2 separate regions of the Homo sapiens genome follow, and region 2 is linked to region 1. A link means that fine-mapping ties the variant in region 1 to the expression of a gene that starts in the linked region. Tissue or cell type: whole blood. Region 1 holds a variant in brackets; the other region holds the start of a gene. All regions are shown on one strand. Distances are from middle to middle.

Evidence for each region.
Region 2: it holds the start of PAPOLA, and the variant in region 1 is fine-mapped to the expression of PAPOLA in whole blood (TOPMed, PIP 0.96).

Annotation. Positions count from the first base shown.
Region 1 is chr14:96,451,527-96,456,903 of GRCh38, reverse strand. It overlaps AK7 (adenylate kinase 7), which reads right to left. Exons shown (of 18, transcript NM_152327.5): 10 at 5,334-5,377; 11 at 429-557. It also overlaps the pseudogene RPL23AP10. Among named protein-coding and RNA genes, the nearest start is that of PAPOLA-DT, 48 kb to the left of the region's middle. The variant G/T (reference allele first, on the strand shown) is at 2,422.
Region 2 is chr14:96,499,351-96,504,727 of GRCh38, reverse strand. It overlaps PAPOLA (poly(A) polymerase alpha), which reads right to left and starts at 2,346. Exons shown (of 22, transcript NM_032632.5): 1 at 2,128-2,346. The coding sequence starts at 2,135. It overlaps PAPOLA-DT (PAPOLA divergent transcript), which reads left to right and starts at 2,402. Exons shown (of 1, transcript NR_122121.1): 1 at 2,402-3,080. RefSeq lists enhancers at 1-196, 197-698, 1,854-2,449, 2,273-2,532, 2,450-3,044 and 1 more and silencers at 2,033-2,152, 2,591-2,934.

The DNA.
Region 1 (5,377 bases):
CCCAGGACACTGTGGCTCCGGGGGCAGCCCAGACATCCTCCCAAGAGTGTCCTCAGGAGAAACCAGCATGACCACTCTGCCATCATCAACTAACATCCCCCGACCCCTGAGTTGGCCACGAAGAAGACGACACAAACACACACTTGTGTTCATTGCGGGTGCCAAAGCCAGCAAGCGCCACATCCAACAGGCTGTGAAGAAGCTCTCTGACGCCAGTGTGGCCAAGGTCAACACTCTTCTCAGGCCTGAGGGGGAAGAGAAGCCAGATGTTCCCCTGGCTACTGATTAGGACACCTTGGATGTTGCCAACAAAATTGGGATCATCTAAACTGCATCCAGCTGGCTAATTCGAATCATATACATCTTTATACCCTAAGAACAATACAGTAATTAATTAAAATGCCCAGGAAAATAGTTTAAAGTGTTACCAGTTTTGCTATGGCTTCAGAAATGACATCCTTCAGTTGGATGTGATGCAGTTTGTAGTAGTTGGCCAATTCTTTAGCAATACTGGATTTTCCCACAGCAGGGGGACCAAGAATGCAGATCTTGATTGGCTGAAAGAGGAGAGAGTAAGGAACATACAGCAAGCTCTGAATGATCTGTAGCTAGACAGAGTGGTTTTTTATTTCAGGGGAGTGCTTTTTTTTTTTTTTTTTTTTTTTGAGACAGAGTCTCTCACTCTGTTGCTCGGGCTGTAGTGCAGTGGCATGATCTCGCTTACTGCAACCTCCACCTCCCAGGTTCAAGCGATTCTCTGCCTCAGCCTCCCGAGTAGCTGAGACTACATGTGCGCACCACCATGCCCAGCTAATTTTTGTATTTTTTGTAGAGACGGGTTTTCTCCATGTTGGCCAGGCTGGTCTCAAACTCCTGGTCTCAAGTGATCTACCCACCTCAGCTTCCCAAAGTGCTGGGATTACAGATGTGAGCCACCACGTCTGGCTGGGAGTGCCTTTTGAAAATAAAGTCTCTGGACCCTGCAGGCTAACTCTCACTCTTCTGTGGAGACTCCAGAGTCACGCCTCTACCCCCACCACCACCACCAGGGTGACTGCCACATCATCCCGAAAGCGTCTGCCGCCTGGTCAGACAGTTCATGTTCTGGTTCATGTCCATTCATTCAGTAGGTATTCAATAGGCACCAACTACATGGGCTGATCTGGGGCTGGTGGATAGGGCCACATAAGAAGATGTATCAGGAACAACTCAGATCACTAAAGAGTAAGTGCTCAGGAATTACACACTGCCAGTTTCACAAGACAGTGCACAGTACAGGGCATTGTGCTACCTTTGGAACAGTAACAAAGCAAAGAATTTCTGGTTTGGTGTGCAAAGGGCCTAATTTACTGCCTGAATACTATTTCTGTACTGAATTTGGTCTTTAATTATTTGTTTTGTTTTGTTTTGTTTTGTATTGAGATAGGTGCTCCCACTGTTGCCCAGGCTGGAGTGTAGTGGTGCAATCACAGATCACTGCAGCCTCGAACTCCTGGGCTCAAACCATCCTCCCAGCTCAGCCTCACAAGTATCTGGGACTACAGAGGCACACCACCATGTTCGTCTGATTTTTATACTTTCTGTAGAGATGAGATCTCACTGTGTGGTTCAGGCTGGTCCCAAACTCCTGCACTCAAGGAATCCTCCCGCCTCAGCCTCCCAAAGCGTTGGGATAACAGGTGTGAGCCACTGCACCTGGCTTGGTCTTTAATTACTATTATTATTGTTACTATTTTGAGACAGAGTTTCACTCTTGTTGCCCAAGCTGGAGTGCAATGGCATGATCTCGGCTCACTGCAACCTCTGCCTCCTGGGTTCAAGCGATTCTCCTGCCTTAGCCTCCTGAGCACCTGGGATTACAGGCGCACGCCACCACACCCAGCTAATTTTTTGGTATTTTTAGTAGAAATGGGGTTTCACCATGTTAGCCAGGCTGGTCTCGAACTCCTGACCTCAGGTGATCCACCCGCCTCGACCTCCCAAAGTGGTAGGATTACAGGTGTGAGCCATCGCACCTGGCCAATTATTTTTAACACAGTTAATTTATTCTAATTTTTAGGCCAGGCATCGTGGCTCATGCCTGTAATCCCAGCAGTTTAGGAGGCTGAGGTGGGAGGATCCCTGGAGCCCAGGAGTTTGAGGCGAGCCTGAGCAATATAGTGAGGTCCCCCTCTCTACAAAAAACGAGGCCAGCTTCAGCAATATAGTGAGATCCCTGTCTCTACAAAAAAAAAAAAAAATTTTTTTTAAATATTGGCTGGGCATAGTCACATGTGCCTGTGGTCCCAGCTACTTGGTGGCCCAGGCTGAGGCAGGAGGAGTGCTTAAGCCCAGGAGGGTCTAGGCTGCAGTGAGTCGTGGTCCTACCACTGCACTCCAACCTGGGCAACAGAGCAACACCCTGTCTCAATTTTTAAAAAA[G/T]TTATTCTAATTTTTAAAAACATACTCATTAAAAAAAAAAACACCATTTCTCCTGCTGATAAACTTGATTGAATGCTAAAGAAGCCCTATGGTGTTCATAATCAATGAGTAAATATTCATTTCTAACAGAGGTCAAAATATCAGTAACATATAGTTATTTATTTCAAAATGGTCCAAATAGTTGTGAAACTGAGGGCCCATATTTTGCAAGGTAAATTTTAGAATTGCGCTCATGAAAAGGATTTGCATTGGTAGAGTGTCTGTATGCTTACAGATTATATAATTTCATCCACCAAGTTGGTTAATATCATTACTACCATTTGACAGGTGAGGAAACCAAGACAGTGAAGGAAGTAGGCAGCACACAGGATGGTTCTGGCTAGCAGCGCTGTCCCATCGGATAGGGATGATGGATGGCTCTGGCGCGTGTGGTCCCATCGGATAGGGAGGATGGATGGTTCTGGTGAGGAGTGCGGCCCCGTCAGATAGGGATGATGGCAGGCAGTGGAAGGAGGCAGGTGTGAAGGAAAGCAGTTCTGGAACTGAGTCCTGACGAGCAGGGCTGGGCCCCTGGAGAGGTGCAGTGCATTCACCAAGGCCTGAGAACCGGCTGTCAACTGAGCAAGTTCAGGTGTCTCATTTGTCCACGGACCAAGGGTGGGTCCTTTCTCCTGGCATGGGCTCACTTTATCCAGGTGTAAAACCAGGATGCCAATCTATTCATTTATTTACAATGAGAAGTATGACTGCCACTGAATCAAATACTCCAAGTCCACATATTTGGTATATTTACTCCCTTCAAGCAGATGGACACTGGGAGCCAAGTCTTATAAGGCTGCTTGATGAGCTTTGATCAGAACAAGGGGAGTAGGATGAACTGACTGGAAGCAATGGGTCAAGGTGGCTTGATGCATCTGTCTCTGAAGCAGCAATGACTTTTCCTTGCTAAAGGAACTGCGATCACGCAAGTGCATGGCTTGAGACTCCATCTTTTGGGGATGTCACTGAGTGACACCTCTGGGGCTACACTGGCCTCGGTAGTGTTTCCTGTGGCTAACTGCCCCTAGGGACAGACATACCCTATTTAGTTTTTAGATATACTATTCCTTCTATCATATTCTTGTCCAGTCTTGCTCATCGGGAACCATACGGTCTCTTCAAAGTGTCTTGTCATATTTCTACTCTGTGTGTTGTTGTTACAGTTGACCTAGAGAGGACATTAGTCTAACCTCTGAGGTTGGGTTGGTGTATATCTCAGGATAACCTCCCAGTACAGCCACCATGAGGATCTTAGATGCTTAAAGAGATCATTATTTCTTTTGCTAAGTGGTACATGTTTTGCTTATTCTTAACTAGACATGTTTTTTTTTCCAAGAGAATACGGTTCTAAGGATATGATGGTGACACTATGCTTGCTTATGTGGAGCATTCCCTCCAACAGTGATAATTATGGTTATGATGACACCTGTTACTCACATACGCCATTTTACAGTTTTCAAAACACTTTCTCATGTATGACCTACTTTTGTCTTTAGAATGTTTCCCTGGGATAAATCCAAAGCTCTACGCAGGTGCTTCATTGATCTGATTTCAGAGAGGCAGGTGTGGCGGCCCTGCAGTTAGATGCGGACATTCTAGTTAAGTCTGCGTCCTACCTAGTCTGAATCTCTGACTAGCTGTGTGACCTTGAAAAAGTTGCTACCTACTCAGGAGGCTGAGGCACTTGAACCTGGGAGGCAGAGGTTGCAGTGAGCCGAGATCCTGCCACTGCCCTGCAGCCTGGGCTATGGAGCAAGACTCTGTCTCAAAAAAAAAGAAAAGAAAAGAAAGAAAGAAAGAAAAAGAAAAAGTTGATGCAGCCAGGCACGGTGGCTCAAGCATGTAATCCCAGCACTTTGGGAGGCCAACGCAGGCGGATCGCTTGAGGCCAGGAGTTTGAAACCAGCCTGGTCCACATGGTGAAACCCCGTCTCTACTAAAATTACAAAAATTAACCAGATGTGATGGTGCACACCTGTAATCTCAGGTACTACTCAGGAGGCTGAGGCACGAGAATCACTTGAACCCAGGAGGCAAAGGTTGCTGTGAGCCGAGATCACACTGCTGCACTCCAGCCTGGGCAACAGAGTGAGACTCTGTCTGAATAAAAAAAAAAAAGGTTGCTTCATCTCTTTGAGCCTTTGTTTCCTAATCTATACTATATAGATAAGAATATCCACCTTTCACCATAAAAAATGATAAGTGTGTGAGTTAACACGGATGTTAATTAGCTCGATTTAGCCATTCCACAATGTCTACATATTTCAAAACTTTATGTTGTACAGGATACATGTATATAATCTATTTGTCCATTTCAATTAATTACTTTTTTAAAAAAGAATATCTACCTTGAAAAGTTGTGATAATTAAAATGACCAGTGAGTCCTCTGACCACTTAGAAAGAGATCAAAGTAGTAATCAGGTTTCTTCTACCTCCCACATGTATACCCAGGACTGAAACAAGCCAGCCAGTAAGGCAGTTGATATTTTTACCTATTTAATATTCTTCTTTATATGGACAACACTGCGACATCACTCTTGAGCTTGCTATCATGTGCAATTTGCGTACATTATTATCTAATGTTTAAATTAGATAATTTTGCATACATTATTAGATATTATCTAATTATTAAATTAGATAAATTTGCATACATTATTATCTAATATTTAAAACTGTTCATGTTTGGTTCACAGGTATTAATTTGATATACATGTAAATTTGTTAGACCTGGACAAATTTGTCAAATTTGAAAAACTTGAAATTAGAAATTTGAACGTCTGAAAAAGCAAATACTTCCGTTGGCATCATCACACTAGAAGTTTGATTCATTTTGCTTGAATCAGAAGTTTCAGTGGGAAACAGTGATAGTTACCATCAATCCTCTGCTTTGCTTGTACTCCTTGAGGATAGTGTTGA
Region 2 (5,377 bases), 48 kb before region 1:
TTTACTACAGTAATTATCGTATACTTACTTTTTGAGTCTCGCTCTGTCACCCAGGCTGGAACGCAGTGGCATGATCAAGGCTCACTGCAGCCTCAGCCTCCTGGGCTCAAGCAGTCCTCCCACCTCAACCTCCCAAGTAGCTGGGATTACAGGCATGAGCCACCACGCCCAGCTAACTTGTGTTTTTTGTTGAGATGAAGTTTCGCCATGTTGCCCAGGCTGATCTCAAACTCCTGGCCTCAAGCGATTTACCTGCCTGGGCCTCCCAAAGTGCTGGGATTACAGGCGTGAACCACCGCGCCTGGCCCCGTCTTCCATTTTACACACTTGAACTAACTCGCGAAGAATTTGAAATACCTAAGGTCTTTCACAGAAATGTATACCTTCCCTCTTCAAAGAATGTTGGGGGAAAGTAGGTATAAAAGTACTTTTAATTCCTAGAAATAAGACACAAATTACTTAATGTTATTTCTTCATTGAAGCCTTTTAAGGTTTACATCTATCATTTTTAATGCTGGTATGATTATCAGAAAAAGAAGTCCCTTTTCAAAGACAGCAAAATGTTAACTTAATAACGCAGTCATCACGACATCACTGCAAACATTTATCTCCTATTGAACTGAGAAACACCACAACAATCTTGCTTAGACTCAGTTCTCCTAGGGTCTCTTATTCTATGAAAGGGAAAAATCAATAAACAGAAACCATGCAGATTCCAAGATTTTAGACCTGTATAGTTAGTTAAGTCTAACAAACGTTTTCATCACAGAAGTAATGTGATAGACTTCTTAATAACCTAAGGGGGTGGGTGGGAGCCATGGAAAATCCTTTTAAAATACATAAATTGCGATAGAAGTCATTAAGGTCTGTGCCAAAGTTAGAGTCTCACCTGTAAAGAAACACATTCACACACATATATAATTGTAAAACTACAATCGGTGATTATGTGCTAAAGAAATTATCCTTACTTACAAAAAAAAAATAGACCTGAGTTACTACATTCGATGTCTAGAAACCACAAAAATCTTTATCCTGAATTTAACCAAAACTTTGAGTGTCAATTACATGTTGCGTTTTGAGGCTACTAAGATGAAGAAAACTCGGTCCCTGGTCTCAAAGAGGCACTCTTACGCTTCAATATTCAAAAATGGAAGAAATGCAGTCTCACTATTTAGGCCTCTACAATGCTGTATATTTGCAGGAAAAAAAAAATCCGTAATCTACTGGCAATGAGCTGCCAAATTATATCTCATTATCAGAAAGGGGGAGGGGAGAAAAAAACTTTTTAAAAACCCACCAAGAAAAGAAAAAGGCGCAGTGGCATTAGAAAGCATAAAGAGACTAGCTTCAAGCCTTACAACCAGGAAAAAAAAAGTATCACCAGAGATAGAGAAAGAAGGAAACAGAATGAAACCTGGTTACCCCATCAAAACAAAACAGGGAAAGCAATACATAAGTCGTTTTGGAGGAGGGCACCCTGTGAAGTGCCCCCTTCTCCGACCGCCTGTGAATGCTAGGGAGGCGGAGGTGGAGGCAGGCGGACTCAACGCTCAAAGCTGGGCTTTTAACTCGTGCTCCTACATTCAGACAAGGTCAGTGGAAAGGGGCTAACTCCGGCGCACAAGACAGGCATCTGGAAATGGGAGGAAGAGAGTGAGCAAACTGAGACAGACCAGGAACAGAAAAGCAACATCGAATGGGCCCGAGGGGCGCCGAGAGCGAGCCCGAACCCCAAGTGCTGATCCCGCGTGCAGCAGGGTCGTGGTTCCCCACCACCAGGCAATGTTTTGTTTTCGGGTTGTTTTGATTTTCTTTGTGGACGGGGCGGAGAAGCTGGAGTGGCCGGGCGAGTTAGAGGTTCCGCCAGCAATTCCGGAAGGGGAAGGCCCCCGGCCCGACGGCAGCTGACCCAGCCAGGAAGGGTCGGGGGACGCGGGAACCCAGCACACGGGGGGAAGTGCGGCGGCGAGCGAGCGAGGAAACAGGAAGGTCCCCAGTCCTGCCTGCCTCCTACCAGCGGGGAGGGTCGGGCTCGCGTGCCACCCTCTCCGCCTACCTCTTCCCCTTCCCGGACGCCCCCCAAGGCCCAGCCGGCGAGCGAAAGAAAACAGAATACAAATTACTTACAACGGCATCGTCTCCGGCGCCGGCACCGCCCAGTCACTTCCCCCCCGCAACCGCCGCCGCTGCCGCCCTGGGCATGATCCACTGAGGCGGGAGGGAGGGGGGGGCCTGCCTCAGCCCTGGGTCCAACCCCTCTCCCGCACCGCTCCCGCCGCTTTAAGCGCTTCTCCTCCTTCCCCTTCGTCCTAACATGGCGCCCGAGCGCTACCACAGCAACGTTCTAGAACTGCTGACGCCACCACGCACGCCGTGCGTGCGCCTGCGCACCAGCGCCGTCCGCCGCGAAGCCTCACGGGAAGCGGAGTTCCTAAGGCCGCCTGCGGCCCGGCAATTACCCCCTGGGTCCTCTCACACTTAGCAGTGGGTGTCAGATGGTGGAAGGGAACGCTCAGGGAGGCCCCGGGCGGTGAGTTGTCCCTCGGGCGGGGACGCCCTCGTGGGCAGTGCGGCGTGGACGGCGCAAGGAAGAACCCGGAGAGATCCCAAGCCACGAGGCACCGCTTCCGGCGCATTGTGAGGTCCCACCTTTCCCGCCGCCTGAGGTCGCGGCGGCTGCTCTTTCCCGGAGCAGCGTCCCTGGAGGCGCTGCCAGGGGGTGAGGCACCCACGCGTGCACCGTATGTACCCCCCAGCGCGGCGCTTAGAACGACTCGCATGAGTCGCTGCCTTGGGTTGGAACCGGTTACTCCGCCGCTTCGTACTGGACTGCAAAGTAACAAGTACTTCGCCGGGCAGCGGTGCCGACCCCGTGTGCTACGGCGAGAGGTGCTTAGCCTAGAGCCGACGAAAACATGTCCCCAGGACTCCCTTTCCCTCCCAGACTGCGTCCCACCAGATGGAGCTTTCCGTCTGTTTTAACCACCAGTGTATTCCTGATGCCTGACCCAGGCGCTGAAATATTTGTTGAACGAATAAATGTGTAGGTTAGGACTGACGACAGTCCGCGAATTCTGGAACACGGGCTGATTTTACTTTTGAACAAATGATGCACTGGAACTTCCTGACAGAGCTGACCTTTTATAGGAACATCAATGGCAGTCACCGCTGGCATTTTAGCAAAGGTTGTCTTGGTCATAATTTCCCCTTGACTGTGTTTCCAGCCCTTAATCTATATCGGGTGGGACCTGGAAGTCTACCTTCTCGCCACCCCTCGGCAAAAGTTTGAGAAAGTGTTTGAGGCAGAGCCTCCTCTCTCATATGCCCTCCATCTGCGAATTAGAACGAATTATAAGTTCTACGGTGTCACATAGGGGGTTAGCGGAGAGGAAGAGGGAAAGAATCAAATACAGGACGCTGCCTTAACCAAAGTTCTAAACTCTAAATGTAATAATGTGCATTTGTGAGTCCTCAGGAAGTTTCACAAAGGCTTTCCCTTTTTTCACAGAATGTCTAGTAGGACTGGTGACTCCGAATGGGAAAAACACAGGACCTAGACCTGCCCTGTCCATTAGTGTAGCCCCTTGGCCACTTAGGGCCACTGAGCACTTGAAATGAGGCTAGTTCGTTTAGGAGGCACTGGAAGTGCAAAATACGCACGGGTGTCAGTTCGACGAATGTGAAATACCTCACTGATCACTTTTTATATTGATTGCACGTTGAAATATTTTGGATATATTGCAGTAAAGAAAATGTAAGCCGGGCACGGTGTCTCACACCTGTGATCCAGCACTTTAGGAGGCTGAGGTGGGAGGATCGCTTGGGCAGGAGTTAGAGACCAGCCTGGGCAATATAGGGAAACCCCCGTCTATACAAAAAGTTAAAAAAAAAAAAAAAAAAAGAAAAAAGAAAAAAAAATTAGCTGGGCATGGTAGTTCCTGCCTGTGGTCCCAGTTACTCCGGAGACTGAGGTAGGAGGATCCCTGGAGTGGGAGGTGGAGGCTGCCGTGAGTCGTCATCTCACTACTGCACTCCAGCCTGCGTTGACAGAACGAGATCCTGTCTCAAAAAAAAAAAAAAGAAAATATACTATTAAAATTAATTTTACCTGTTTTTTTAAATGTGACCACTAGAAAATTTTAAGTTATATATGTGGCCTTCATTTCCATTAAATAGTGCTGATCTGCAAACAGACTTATATTTGATTGTCATTTCTTCCATTTAGTCTCTTTTCCTCTTGTCATCAAGGTGGCTTTGGCTGGAGACCCAGTAGCATAGTTGTCCCTAAAAGACTGAAAATCTGAGATCCAGATAATTCAATAATGTATTAAGGCTATGGACTTCAAAGCAGCTTGTAAAGATATGCCCTGGGGCCTGGCACAGTGGCTCACTCACACCTGTAATCCCAGCACTTTGGGAGGCAGAGGATTCCTTGAGCTCGGGAGTTCTAGGCCACCCTGGGCAACGTGGCAAGTCGTTGTCTCTACTAAAAAAAAAAATCAAAAAAATTAGCTGGCCTTGGTGGCACACACCTGTAGTCCCAGCTACTTGGGAGGCTGAGGTTGGGAGGATCACCTGAGGCAAGGAAGTTGAGACTGCAGTGAGCCCTGATCATGCCATTGCACTCTAGCTTGGCAACAGAGCAAGACATTGTTCAAAAAAAAAAAAAAAAAATGCACTAACGATGTACTTTATGAATAAAAGAATGGGGACTTTTTCAGCTTATGTTGTCCTCTGCCAGGCATCTCAGAAGGCAGTGAAGAGAGGGACGCTAAACATCCATGCTTTTGGTCTATAATTGCTTCAAACTATTTTTGTTTCAGCCTTCCATAGAATGAGGCAGCTAGATAGCACAGCTGATGAATATTTAGTACCTAGAATGTGCTAGATATCACGCTACTTGCCTAAGGCATTTAAAAGGAACAATATTGAGGATTGAGGATGGAGTCAAGGTAGACTTCATGTAAGAGGTCACTTCAGACACGTCCTGATATGTTAGGGTTTGGTAAGTGGACAGAAGGAGTAGAAGGGCATCTCAGGTAAAGAGAACAATTTTTAAAAATAAAATGAGGCCGGGCGCAGTGGCTCACGCCTGTAATCCCAACACTTTGGGAGGCTGAGGTTGGAAGATCACTTGAGGTCAGGAGTTGGAGATCAGCCTGGCAAACATGTTGAAACCCCATCTCTACTAAAAATACAAAAATTAGTCGGGCATAGTGGTGGGCGCCTGTAATCCCAGCTACTCAAAAGCTGAGGCAGGAGAATCGCTTGAACCCAGGAGGCACATGTTGCAGTGGACCAAGATTGTGCCATTGCACTCCAGCCCGGGCAACAAGACCAAAACTCTGCCTCAGAAATAAATAAATAAATAAATAAA